Regions from separate parts of the Homo sapiens genome. Here region 2 is linked to region 1. A link means that fine-mapping ties the variant in region 1 to the expression of a gene that starts in the linked region. Tissue or cell type: tibial nerve. Region 1 holds a variant in brackets; the other region holds the start of a gene. All regions are shown on one strand. Distances are between the middles of the regions.

Region 1 (7,172 bases):
CAGCTTTGCCGTGTGACGGTCCAGGAAAGGGGATTAGGTGGAAGAAAATATTTCAGTGAACACTGATTTTTACCTATAAGGAATTTTCTGTTTGGAGAGGAAAAGTTGAGTTTTATTCTGCTCCTTTCCTCCCACTCGCCTGACATAGAGGTCCCTAAGCCCTTTCTCCAAACCTGCATGGATGAGTTTCTTTTCTTGTTCAGGTGGTTCCTTATGTCACGACGATTTTTGGAGGCCTGCATGCAGGCAAGATGGTCATGCTGCAAGGAGTGGTCCCTCTAGATGCACACAGGTAAGGCGGGGGAGGTGGCCCAGGGGGTGCTGGAGCTCAGCCCTAGAGGCATCGAGCTGGAGGGCTCCTCCCTGCCACTGAGATCTCTGTGGGTCTCTGGTCAGAACCGCACTTTGAGAGCCTCACCTCCCAGTAGGTTTCAGGTGGACTTCCAGTGTGGCTGCAGCCTGTGTCCCCGGCCAGATATCGCCTTCCACTTCAACCCTCGCTTCCATACCACCAAGCCCCATGTCATCTGCAACACCCTGCATGGTGGACGCTGGCAAAGGGAGGCCCGGTGGCCCCACCTGGCCCTGCGAAGAGGCTCCAGCTTCCTCATCCTCTTTCTCTTCGGGAATGAGGAAGTGAAGGTGAAGGAAGGGACGGGCATTGGGTGGTCTAGAATTTGTGTCCTTGCGCCCTTCCTTCCCTCAGCCAGACTCCCCACGACACAATGTTGAGTGGCATTGGTAGTGGTCAGGTACCAAGAGGACCAAGGAGCTGCCATGCCCGGTTCCAGGCTGCCCTGGGCCCACATGGCAGCAAGAAAGCTCTACAGTGCCTGGCTCCAAAGAGGGCACTCCTGCCATAGTCATGGCAAGCACTTAGAGAGAACCTACTGTATACCAGGAACTGTTCTAAGCCCTTAAAAGTATCTGCTCATTGAATGCTCACAATAACCCCATTAGGTAGGTACCTTCATTATCCCCATCTTACAGCCACAGTGGCAGGGGAGAGGGACAGAGAACTTGATCTCAAGGTTTAGACCCCTAATGTGAGCTCCTGCCAGAAACATGATGGGATCTTCAGACATCTCCAGGAGACAGGGCAGCTGGCGGGAGGGTAGCCTCTTGAGCCTCAGTTTCCTCACGTAAATGGAGCAAAGATGACTCTTTGGGCTGCTGAGAAAGCACAATGAGGGGCCTCTGTTGGGGTAGAGGGAGCGTTGAAGGTGCCTTAGTCTCCAGGCCAGCTCTGCAACCTTTGGAAGATTACTTAAGCCGCCCAAGGCTCTGTAAAATGTACCTACCTCATAGAGATGACGTGAAGTTAAGTGAGGCAAAATTGAGGAAAAAGTGCTTGGCAATGCCTGGGACATTGTTATGAACTCAATGAACATTAGCTGCTGATAAGCCAGCCTCTGTCTGTCTCTCCAGGTGAGTGTGAATGGACAGCACTTTCTCCACTTCCGCTACCGGCTCCCACTGTCTCATGTGGACACGCTGGGTATATTTGGTGACATCCTGGTAGAGGCTGTTGGATTCCTGAACATCAATGTAAGTTTCCTTGGGACCAAGGCCTGGGCAGTGGCAGCCTCTAATTTCCCCTGACTCCTGGACGGGCCTGGGACCCCTTCCTCCACCCTAGACTGAGAGAGAGGACGCCCTGTGCACCAGTAATAGCCAAGGGGGAGGGAGTCCACTGAGGTTTCGGGTGTGAGTGGGCTGAGGGGGAAGAGAAAGTGATGGCAGAAAGGGTGTCCAGGAGCCGCAGGCAGGAGTCTGTAACCAGTGTGGGTCTGGTTAACACTGAGAAGCAATGGCCAGGAATGATTTGGCACACTGGGGGCCGAAACGGGTGGCAGCTGGCTTTATCATTCCCACCTGATGGGCTTATTAAAGCCCAGATTTCTGGGGCTTGCCACCAGAGATTCTGATTCAGTAAGTCCAAGGTGGGGCCTAGGAATTGGGATGTTCAAAATGCCAGCAAGAAGCTACCACTGACCAGCCGAATGGGAACATGAGGAGCTGTAAAGGCCAGGGCTCTGCCCACCTCCCAGGCATAGGTAGGGGATTGCAGTGGTCCTAAATGCTGCTGATTCTTTTCTCTCTTTCTGAACAGCCATTTGTGGAGGGCAGCAGAGAGTACCCAGCTGGACATGTGAGTTTCTTGGCAGCAAGGTCTGAGCAGCCACACCAGCTGACCCGCCCTTCTGGACTGCTGCTCCCATTACACAAGGCCCAGCTGCCCCTTCCCTCACTGCTGCGGTTGCCACGGACATGGCTGGCTCTGCTTCAGTCTCTGGAGGGCCTGGATTTTCCTCTCCCAGCCCCTCTCCAGGCCCAGCTTGGGAAGATGAATGGGGGTGGGCTGCATGCAGAGGGGGCAAGACCCCGTATTCCTAGCAGGAGAGGCCTTAGTTGAAATGCTCATTTCTCAAACCACCTCTGCAAGGTGGCTGGGGTTGGTCTTGCGGGACAGAAGGGGAGATGAGGCCCATGTACTGCCCAAGGCCACACAGGGAGTGGATGACAAATCCTCCACCCCGTTCTTCCCTATTATTCCAGCGCTGGTGAACCTCTGAAGTCCAGAGGATCCCACTGGGGCTCCAATGACTCACCTACTGCTGTGAGAGAGACAAGCCCCAAATATTCCCAATTTGTTAGAATAACAAGAGTTTCCCTTTTCCTGAGCAAATACCACATGGCCTTGTGTCCTCTCTTTCTTTCCCTGACAGCCTTTCCTGCTGATGAGCCCCAGGCTGGTGAGTGAACCTCCCTCCTGCTCTGTCAGGGCTGGGGGCGCAGCCTGGGTGAGCAGCTAATGAGCTCAGCCTGGTAGGACATGCCCCCAGCCTCAGGATTTCCCCTTCCTTTATAGAAAACTGCAGGCTGTGGGTGGGCCAGGCAGCTTATGCCCCCAGCCGCATGATTTCCCCTTCCTTTATAGCAAGCTGCAGGCTGTGGGTGGGCTGGGCAGCTTCAGGCTGAAGCTCCAGCTTCATTTTACCTTTTCTCCACTTATTGTGAACATCATTACTTGATACTTCTCTGTGCCAGGCCCGGTGCCAGGCTCTAGGATAGAGGAACAAGCTGGTCCCAGCCGTCCAGTTGCTCACAGGCTGGTGGGGGACAGACCACTAGATGGCAATTACAGTTAAGGATGCAGTGAAGGGAGAAGGACATGGTGGTCGGGACACAGAGAGGCCAAGCTCAGCCTGGACAGGCCGGGGAAAGTGTTCGGCAATAACAGAGTACAGGAGGCCAGGTGCTTAACAAATAAGCAGCGTGTCCTGGCGGCAGGCCTGGGCAGAACATGCCTGCCCCAGTGCTCCCCTGGCCCCCGGGGATGGGCG[G/T]TCCTCCCCAGTCCCCCTGGAAGTCAACTTCTCAATACCTCCCTTGTTCCTTCAGGAGGTGCCCTGCTCACATGCTCTTCCCCAGGGTCTCTCGCCTGGGCAGGTCATCATAGTACGGGGACTGGTCTTGCAAGAGCCGAAGCAGTAAGTATCCAGCATCTAAGTGGAGGGGAGGGAGCAGCCTCTCTGTGACAGTCACATGCTATAAAACATCATCTCTTTTAATCTCCTAGCACCACCATTTAATCCCCATTTTACAGATGAGGAAACAGAGGAGCAGAAAGGAGAAGTGGCCCAATTTGGCAGAGCTTATGAAGGTCAGGCTGGGACTGGGACCGACAGCCCCACTGCTGGGAGCATCATTCCTGCTGGTACATCTAGTCAGGCCTAGCCTCTTGTCCCAGGTCCTAGGAAAGGGGCCCCAGGAAAGGCCCTTCGTAGGTGCAGGCTGAGGCCCAGAGCAAACATGTAGCTTCCTATGGTAACACAATGTGTGGTTCAAAAGATACAGCCAGACTGCCCCAGAGAAGAGGGCTGGTATTTGGAAGCCAGGACTTGGAGGGACCCAGTGACTAAGTGGACATTACCAAACTTCTCCTACATGGTGCTTTCAAACCCAGACCTGTGGCTCCAATCCAGTTAGACAGGAGCCACTGGCCGGCCTGCCTTGAGGAAACGCATTAGAGTTTATGACTTCTCTGGGCCAGAATGCCTGGGTTGGCATGTGCTCAGGACACCTACTTGTGCAACCTTAGGACAGATACTTTTCCTCTCTGTGCCTCTGTTTTCCTCTCTGTAAGAAGGGGATGATAGGCCGGGCGCGGTGGCTCACACCTATAATCCCAGCACTTTGGGAGGCCGAGGCGGGTGGATCACGAGGTCAGGAGTTGGAGACCAGCCTGACCAACATGGTGAAATCCTGACTCTACTGAAAATAGAAAAATTAGCCGGGCATGGTGGCGCATGCCTGTAATCCCAGCTACTCAGGAGGCTGAGGCAGGAGAATCGCTTATACCCGGGAGGCAGAGGTTGCAGTGATCCGAGATCGCGCCACTGCACTCCAGCCTGGGCAATAGAGCAAGACTCCATCTCAAAAAAAAAAAAAAAAGATAGAGGGGGTTGATAATAATGCCGACTTTAGGGGTGGTACTTAGAATAGTGCCTGGTACATGGTAAGTGTCCACAAATGTGGGTACTACTGCAATCATCTCAGTGGAGGTAGGGGAGGGCAGAGTAAGGAAAGCACCCTATGTTCTCCTTGCTTAATTTTGTTTTTATTTTTAAGTCACTGACCTCACTAAACCCTTGCCCTGCACACTGCCGATCATGCCTGTGAATTCTGGGACAGGCATGAAGCCCAGCACTCGATGGCCTCGGCCTCCAAAGACAGGCATGACTGAGTTGGATTCCTGGTTTTGTCTCTTATAAACAGTGCGGTCGTGGGCCAGTCACTAAACCTCTCTGAGTCTGAGTTTCCCTACCGGAAAAAGGTGAATGATAATTCCAACCTGCTAGGGAAAATGAAAAGTGCTCAGTGATGGAACACTTCTTCCCACAAAACTTGGAGGCATGAGACCGGGTTCATATTGTAGCTCAAAGTCACAAGGTTACTAGTGACATAGTCAGCAAGTAACTGCTGTTTCCCAAGGGCCATGAATGCATGTGTCCTCAGAGGCCAGACAGGTCTCATAAATAGTGAGGAAACCAGTTGGGAAGGTGGTAAAGGGGAAGGAGTATCTCCATACACCCAGTCATGCCAGATCTTCTGACTATTTTTAAAGCAAAAATAGAAGCCATCTTTTATATAAACTCTCTCAATTTTTGAATATTATATTAAAGTTGAAGAATACTATGGACCAGACAAAACATTCCTATACACCAGTTCAGCCGAGATCCACCAACATGAAGATTTAGCACAGCACCTGGTATTTAGCGAGGCTGCAACCAATGCAGCTGCTGCTATTTTGTGAAAGCAACTGATGGCTTGAATGGGGCAGAGAGAGTAAGAGATGGAGGGCACAGGATTCATCTGCAGTGAAAATCTATCCCTCCTTCTTCACCTCATCCCTTCCCTCCTCGTTATTGAGTGGGAGTGTATGACTGCAGCCTCAAAGAGCTTCAACAGAGCTTCACTGGGCATCTGGTGATTTGTGATTATTCAGTGATCTAGTGGGCATCTAGTGATTCATGATTATCCAGTGATCTGGCGGGCTGAGCTGCATGAAGGTGAGGTAGGGAGACACTGAGGCCTCCTCACCAGGAGTTCGCAGGCCAGAGGAAGACACAGTGTTGTCTGGCAGGACGGGGTAGGGGGAGCCATAGTGGGGCTGGAGGCTCCACGCAGTCCACTCTCCAGGGTTCCTGCCTTCCAAGCTTCTTCCCAACATTGGGCCCTGGCCACCTCCTTCCCAAAGTTGGAAACTTACGGGGCCTCCTCCTGTAAGGATCTACCAATAGCCCTTGAAAGGCCTGTCCAGGGCGGCCTTTTCCCCTACCTTACCTGCCTCTGCATCCCATCAGGATGCCGCGCCTTCTCCAGCATAGCTCTTCAAGAAGGAAACTTGGGAAGTTCCCAAGACATAAAAATAATCTGGGCCGGGCGCGGTGGCTCAAGCCTGTAATCCCAGCACTTTGGGAGGCCAAGGTGGGCAGATCACAAGGTCAAGAGATCGAGACCACCCTGGCCAACATAGTGAAACCCCATCTCTACTAAAAATACAAAAATTAGCTGGGCGGTGCGGGCATGCGCCTGTAGTCCCAGCTACTCCGGAGGCTGAGGCAGGAGAACTGCTTGAACCTGGGAGGAAGAGGTTGCAGTGAGCCGAGATCGTGCCACTGCACTCCAGCTTGGTGACAGAGCAAGACTCTGTCTCAAAAAAATAAAATAAAATAAAGAAAAATAATATAATCCGGTTGCCCTATTTGAGAGGCAGGTGCCAGATCCCCCCACCCCCAAATCTAGAGTCATGAATCCTAGTTCACATCCTAACCTAAGGCCCTACCACTATTACTAGTAACAGAGAAGTCATTTAACTTCTTGTCCTCATCACTTAAATGGGCTGACAAACCTCACAGCACAGAATTTGTGAGGATTAAGGAAAGGCAAACTAGCTTCTGTAAAACACCTACTGTGTGCTAGGAATTGCTAGTTTTCACATACATTATCTCCTTTGTTCCTTTTTTTTTTTGGCTCTATGAGGTAGAGATTGTATTATATAGCAATATTTTTAAACAATAGGTATCATCTGAATGCTTATTACGTTCCAGGTGCTATTCTAAATAAGCATTTTTTTATGTATTCATTTAATTCTTACAACAATGCCACAGGCAGGTACAGGGCAGTTATGTTATCGTCACATTACAGATGAGGAAACTGAGGCACAGAGAGATTAAGAGTCTTGCCCAAGGTCACAGGACTAGAAAGTAGCAGAGCCAGGGTTGAATCGGGACTGCCTGACTCTAACCACTATGCTGTTTGGAAAACATTTAAGATAATACCTGGCACTTAGTTAGCATTCAATAAATGTTAGCTGTAGCTATCATCATCATAATCATCCCCATTTTCAGGAGGAGAAACTGAAGCTCAGGCTAGGCAATTTTCACACACTTCCCTCCCACCCCCATCCTCCTGTAGTCATAGATGGCAACCCTGGAGGTCAATCTCAAGTTCATCTAGAACTCGTGTTCTTTCCACTGTTCTGAGCATTCAGCCATGAGGCTGTCATAGGCCCTCAGTGCTTGTTTCTGGAGGCTGAAGCAGCTCAACCTTCCATCCACTCCCTGACCTCCATCCTTCCCCTGGGGGCTGAGCAGCGGCCTATGGGC
Region 2 (7,016 bases), 21 kb before region 1:
CTCGTACATAAATGTTCAAGCAGATTTGTGATAGTCAAAAACTAGTAACAACTCAAATGCTCAATCAACAGGTGAACACATAAACAAGAGTGGTATATCCATACAATGAAATACTGCTCAGTAATAAAAAGGAATGAACTGTTGATAAAAAGCAACAACATGGATGTCAGTCAAAATAGTTATATGGGCTGGCTGCAGTGGCTCATGCCTGTAATCCCAACACTTTGGGAAGCCGAGGCGGGAGGATCATGAGGTCGGGAGATCGAGACCATCCTGGCTAACACAGTGAAACCCCGTCTCTACCAAAAATACAAAAAATTAGCCGGGCATGGTGGCAGGTGCCTCTAGTCCCAGCTACTCGGGAGGCTGAGGCAGGAGAATGGCGTGAGCCCAAGAGGCAGAGCTTGCAGTGAGCCAAGATCACGCCACTGCACTCCAGCCTGGGCGACAGAGCGAGACTCCATCTCGAAAAAAATATATATAGTTATATGAAGGAGACAGACAAAGAAGTGCACATACAATATGATTTCATATAAATCTCTAAAAATGTGAACACATCTATGGTGACAAAAAGCATATCAGTTGTTGCCTGGGGATGGGAGTGGTATGGGAAGAGAGAGGGATTACAAAAGGCACAAAGAAACTTTTGTAAATGACAGAGATTATTCATTATCTTGATTGTGGTGAAGATTTGACAGGATATATATATAGATGTCAAAATGTATCAAACTATACACTTCACTGGCATATATATATGCCAAATTTATCAAATTGTATATTTTAGATATGTGGAGTTTACTATATGTCAATTACACCTCAATAAAACTGCTTTAAAACAAAGCATAACCAACATCCCAAATCAGGATATTTATTAGACCATCTAAACCAAGTTTGTCCAACCCGCAGCCCACAGGCCACATACAGCCCAGGACAGCTTTGAATGTGGCCCAACACAAATTTGTAAACTTTATTAAAACATTATGAGACTTTTTTGTGGGTTTTTTTTTTTTTTAAGCTCAACAGCTATCGTCAGTGTTAGTGTATTTTATGTGTGGCCCAAGACGTTTCTTCTTCCAGTGTGGCCCAGGGAAGCCTAAAGATTGGACACCCCTAGAAACAAAGTAAAATACAATATGTAGAGAAGTTGCCAGGAGGTTAAAGATAGTCACTTTGAGAATTCTTGTTACACCTACCTCAGCTGCTTGCTTTATTAACTTGCCTTCATTCTCAGGCTTTGGAATTGAACTCCAGTCTGCTTTCTGGCTGGGTGTGGTCTCCAAGCTAACTACAGCCTTCTCCCTAAATGATTTTGCAATCACAAAGTTAACAAATATCACTATTTCATAATTATTGGAAAATCTGTATTACAGATTTGTGATTTTTAAGATGGCTTTTGGTTTGGAGACTGTAGGGAACATTTCCCCCCGTTTGTTTCTGTGAACCCATTAGCTTTCATACAAAAGAATTGCTGTTTGCTGGTTTTCTGACAATTGTTCAAATGCTAATGATAGCAAGAAGCAGTTTTGGGGGTTTTTATTTTTTAATTTGCTAATAATGTCTTTTTAATGTTTATCAAAGTGATACTTGCACATGGTTTCCAGTACATAAGAATTTATAATGAAATGCAAGGAGCCTTCCTCCTTTCCCTTTTCATCCCAGCCCTACTGCCCAGAGGCAAACCCCTTGAACTCTTTCTTCCAATAATTAGCCCCAGATTTCTAAGAAAGCTTGATAAGCCACAACACTGCAACTGCAAGTAATATGAATGAAATCAGTATATTTCTCCCTTGAAACAAAATGTTACAGGAGAGGACAGAAATGAAAGGCAAGAATATGCTTTCAAGCATATTAAATTAAGGTAGTATAGTAGAGTAAAATACTTCGAAGCCAAAAGATCTAGGTTTGAATCCTAGCTTTCATGATTGCTGTCCCACCTTGAGCTAGTAAATTAATGTCTGACTCTCAGCTTGATTATCTTTAAAAATAGAGATGAAAATGTGTCTCACAGTGGTCAAGAAGGTGAAAGGACACAGCACATGTAAACATCTGGTATACCACCAACTCAGAAATGACTTTTTCTTTACCTTTTCCCATGCTTTAAACTCTTCTCCAGAAAAAAATAGTGTGTGGGGCAGAGGGGACACCCCTCATTTTCAGTAGAGCTCCTCTCCAAAATTTCAGCCCCTCGGAATTTTTTAAAGCAGCAATCATCATGTTGTTAATGAAAGTGAATTCAGGAAATCTGCCAAAGGCCGACTCATTGTTCACTGATTAGTGAGACCAAGGACAATACTGTAAGCCTCCTGCTAAAGCCATTCATTTCTCTGGGGTCTAGAGAATGGCCTTGTGGCTAGAAACAGCTGCAACGCATGCCTGTGGCCAGCAGGTCCCAAGCCCAGTACCATCTGTTATCACCCAGGATCACACCAGCCTTCCCCTTGCTGGGTACCGGCTGGCTGGTTCACACAAAAACCACCTCTGGGTTTGTTTTACAGAACTGCATTCCAAGTCAATTCTCCAAAAGATTTCTTCCACCCAAAGACCCCAACCTTACAATCTTCTTACCCTTGCTGGATGCTTCTGCCCTGTTCTAATGTGCCCGGCGGAGGCTGCTTGGCTGGGAGCTGGACCAACGCTGCGAATCCCACGGATTCTTCTAATTCAAGGGGGGAAATGCTATTTAGACCTGTGAAAGGAGAGTTCGAGCAAGCACCTTGACCGCTACGGAGAGTGGGCTCAGAGCTCTAGTCTAGCATCGTGCCTGGCCCCTGGTTAGGCCTCAGAAAATCTTGGGATGAATGGAGAGGGTTGTGGAACTAGGTGCTGGAGCGGGTTCAGTTCCTCTGCCAAAGAGAGACTTTGGGATTCCTGGGAACGGAATCGGGGAGAGGATGAAGAAGGGCGCCTCGCCTCTATCCTAAGCCCGATGGGAGGAACCTCTGCCGAGCCAGAGCCGGTCTTAACACCACCCTCCGGAGCTGCCACCACTGCCTCACTTCCATATGAGATATAGCGGGAAGGAGGGAGTGGCTGCCTGGCTCGCTTTGATTAGCTTTATAACAAGCGGTCGTTCTGAAATACTCGCTCATGATGGCTAACAGACAACACAATCGCCAAATGTCTTAAGAAAAGGAGCTTTGAGGGTAACCGCCCGCTGGGACCTGAAGGACAATTGCGGATTGTCCTTCAGCCGCATTCTTGGGGCTGACCTGAGTGGGGCACAGCTGAACGTCTGAGCGCAGGCGGCTGGTCCTTGGGCCCGGTACTGGCGGTTCGCGAGGCGGGTTTGGGGAGGGGTGGGGGAATCCTAGGGAGGCGGAGCGCGTACTCCCCCTCGGCGCCCGGGCTCAGGCCCATCCCGCCTCTGCGGCCTCGCCGGCCCCCAGGCCTTGCAGGGGACTACGCCCCTGGCGAGTTCCCAGTCGGCGCGGCCCCTGGTCGGCGGAGCCGCGGAAGCTTGGGCACTGGGGGCGGCTCGGGGAGGAACCGCGGAGGGGAAAGCGCCGCGGGCTGCAAACGGCAGAGGCGCGCGGGGTGGCGACAGTGGCGCGGGCGCAGTGAGCGCGTCCGAGAACAGAATGGGACGAAACGGGGCGCTTAGAGGCCCGGGAATCTGTGGGTCTTTTAGGCGGAGAGGGGCGAAGGAGGTTATTCGTTTTGGGGAAGGTCATGGAAACAGCAAAGGCTCAGAGGTGGTGCCTAAAGTGGCTGGAGAAGCTGAACGGTTTGGAACAGAGGCGTGACTTGGAGGGGTAAATGGAGACCAGATTAGGAAGCCTTGGGAGGCACAATCAGGGGTTAAAATCTTGAACAATTCAGAGTTGTTTTATTTTTAAAAATATATAGAAAATGAAATCTACACTTACGTAATAGATAACTTATGAAAAAGTACATGGAATACACATGTTGCAGTCTTGCCAATGTACCTTAATGTAGCAGTTTCTCCTTGTCTGGACTGATACCCGGGATTCTTTGTCCTACTCCAAGAAAATTAAGGAACGGGACATAAGGTGAGGTGGGAGCGAAAGTTTAATAAGCGAAAGAAGAAAGCTCTCCACAGTGAGCTGAGTATGCAAGTGGATTGCCCTGTTACAGCTGAATTCAAAAGCTTTTGCAAGAAAATCTCTTATCTCTGTAGTAGTTTGAGTAACTTCTCTTATCAGTAAAGCTGTCTTACGCAGCTGTGGTTATGTATCTATGCAAGCACAAAGCACCGCCTTTTTTGTTTGCATAACTGTGGGTTTGTTTTAGGTAAGCCCCCCTCCTCCCTGTGAAAGTTCCCACCATGTATATGCCTGAAAAGGGGAGAAAACTTTCCTGGGAGCTCCCTAATTATACAAAGAACAAAAGGCTTCTGTGCTGGACCCTGTCTGCTTATCTGTGTGCAGGTGGAGCCTGAGTTTTTTACCAGGTTGTTTTATTTTTGCCTGTTGCTGTGACTTTTCAGGCAGGCCGCTTCTGCATTGAGTCTTCCCCAACTGATTTTCTCTTTCCTTCTCTCTCGCACACAGTTAGGAAACATAATGTAATTACTACCCATGACAAAACCATCCTACGTAAGAAATGGAACATTCCTAGTACAGATGCTCCCCACCTATGGATTCCTTCCTTATCCCTTCTCCCTCTGCACGCCCAACGTCTATCCTGACCTTTGTGTCTGTCATACCCTCACTTTTTAAAATAGTTTTTTAAATCGCTTCTTTGTATCCCTAATACATCACTTTGTTTTGCTTCTCTGAAACTTTATAAAAATGGTGCTATGGTCTGGGTGTTTGTGACTCCATAAAATTCATGTGCTAGAATTCTAACCCCCAAAGTGATGGTATCAGGAGATGGGCCCTTTGGTCATGAGTGGGATTCATAAGAGCCCTTATAAAGGAGGTCCTGCAGAGCTACCTAGCCACTTCCACCATGTGAGAACACAGCAGTTGCTGAGACCAGTCCCTCACAAGACAGGAATCTGCTGGTGCCTTGATCTTGGACTTCCCAGCCTCCAGAACTGTGAGAAATAAATTGTTGTTGTTTATAAGCCACCCAGCGTATGGTATTTTGTTATAGCAGCCCAAATGGACTAAGACAAATGGTATCATGCTGTTAAGTTCTCTTCTGCAATTTTCTTCTTTCAAAGTTGTTTCTATAATACATACACAGTGCTGTATAGTCCTGTAATTCATTTTCACTGCAGTAAAATATTCCACTATGTGGCTATACCACAATTTATTGACCTAGTGATAAAGCCACTTGGTGATTTGTTGGTTCTTTTTTTTTTTTTTTTTTTTTTCAATTTGGGGTTGGAAACAATTGAGAAGAACCCAATTTGTATCCTGGTGTATGCATGCAGACATCACACAAGATGTAATACCTAGGAGTATATACAAATATCCAACTTTACAATAAAACACTAGAACTATTTCCCCAATTGGTGGTCCCAATTTCACTTCTACCAGCAATGGGTAAGATTTATTAATTTACATCCTCACCAACACTTAGTATTGTCACACTTCTTGATTTTTCCAGGTGAGTGAATGTAAAATAGTATTTCACCAGCGTTTTAATTTGCATTTCCCTGATCACTAATAAAGTTGAGACCTTTACATATATTTATCACATTCCCTCTTTTTAAAAGTGTCTGTTCATGTCCTTTGCCCATTTTTCTTTGGAGTTGTGTTCTTTTTGATTTGTAGAGCTCTTTGTATATTCTTGATACTCATCTTTAGTCAGTTATACTTGTTTACACACATTTTCTTGCAGTTCATGGCTTGTCTTTTCACTTTCTTCATGATGTCTTCTGACAAGTAGAATTCATGTCTTTTCTTTTGTGGTCAGCTCCCTATCTTTTCATGAAGTCTTTCTTGCCCTGAATTCAGAAAACATTCTCTTATATTTTCTTTTTTTTTTTTTTTTTTTTTTTTTTTGGAGATGGAGTCTTGCTCTGTCGCCCAGGCTGGAGTGCAGTGGTGCTATCTTGGCTCACTGCAAGCTCTGCCTCCCGGGTTCACGCCATTCTCCTGCCTCAGCCTCCTGAGTAGCTGGGACTACAGACGCCCACCACCATGGCCAGCTAATTTTCTTTTTTTTTTTTTTTTTTTTTTTGTATTTTTAGTAGAGACAGGGTTTCACCATGTTAACCAGGATGGTCTCGATCTCCTGACCTCATGATCTGCCTGCCTTGGCCTCCCAAGTACTGGGATTACAGGCGTGAGCCACCGTGCCTGGCCAGATAGTCTCCTATATTTTCTTGAAAATGTTTTTAAATTTTGCCTTTTTCGCTAATCCATTTGGAATTGATTTTTGTATATGTGGGAGGCAGGGATCCAACTTCATTTTTCCTCATATGAATAACTGTCTCAGCATCACTTGTTGATAGTTTCCACTTCTTCATAGATGAACAAGGCCACCTCTGTCCTGCATAATGCTTTGAAAGAGCAGGAATACTGTTGACTCTATTCAGTATCACTGATAAATGTATCTGTCTTTGTGCTACTATCATGTGGTTTTAATTGCTACATCTTTATGATAAATCTTGATGTACAAATATCTCAAGATCCCTCCTTACTTATTCTTCCTCAGGAACTTCTCAACCATGCTTGAGCTTTTGCCTTTCATTATAAATTGCAAAACTAGTTTGTCAAGTTGCTCAAAATACCCTATTGGCATTTTGCTTGGAATTACAGTAAATCAATAAATCAGCTTGGCAATTTTGGCATCTTTACAAAATTGTTTCTTTCAGTTAATAATGTATTCTATCTCTCTATTGTTAGGTTTTAAAACCTTTCAATGAATTCTTCTAATATTCTTCATAAATATCTAATCTTAGTATATTGCATTTTCCCTCTACTTATTTGGAAGTTTACACTGTATTCTTTTACTTATTGCCCTTGAAATTTTAACATGTATGCTTAAGTCTAAAATTAATATCCTAAACAATCCTCTGAAACAATGTAAGGACCTTGGAACACTTTCACTCTAATCTTTCCTACCCATGCTATTTTAGTCTGCCCCTTTTTAATCCCCAA

Evidence for each region. PIP is the estimated chance that this variant, and not a neighbour inherited with it, causes the effect.
Region 2: PLAAT5 starts here. The variant in region 1 is fine-mapped to the expression of PLAAT5 in tibial nerve (GTEx, PIP 0.98).

The regions. Positions count from the first base shown.
Region 1 is chr11:63,508,350-63,515,521 of GRCh38, forward strand. LGALS12 (galectin 12) reads left to right here. Exons shown (of 9, transcript NM_033101.4): 2 at 204-292; 3 at 429-642; 4 at 1,429-1,548; 5 at 2,114-2,152; 6 at 2,730-2,756; 7 at 3,403-3,491. Among named protein-coding and RNA genes, the nearest start is that of LGALS12, 5.9 kb to the left of the region's middle. RefSeq lists an enhancer at 1,884-2,515. The variant G/T (reference allele first, on the strand shown) is at 3,348.
Region 2 is chr11:63,487,678-63,494,693 of GRCh38, forward strand. It overlaps PLAAT5 (phospholipase A and acyltransferase 5), which reads right to left and starts at 3,490. Exons shown (of 6, transcript NM_001146729.2): 1 at 3,210-3,490; 2 at 2,566-2,656; 3 at 1,194-1,299. The coding sequence starts at 3,357.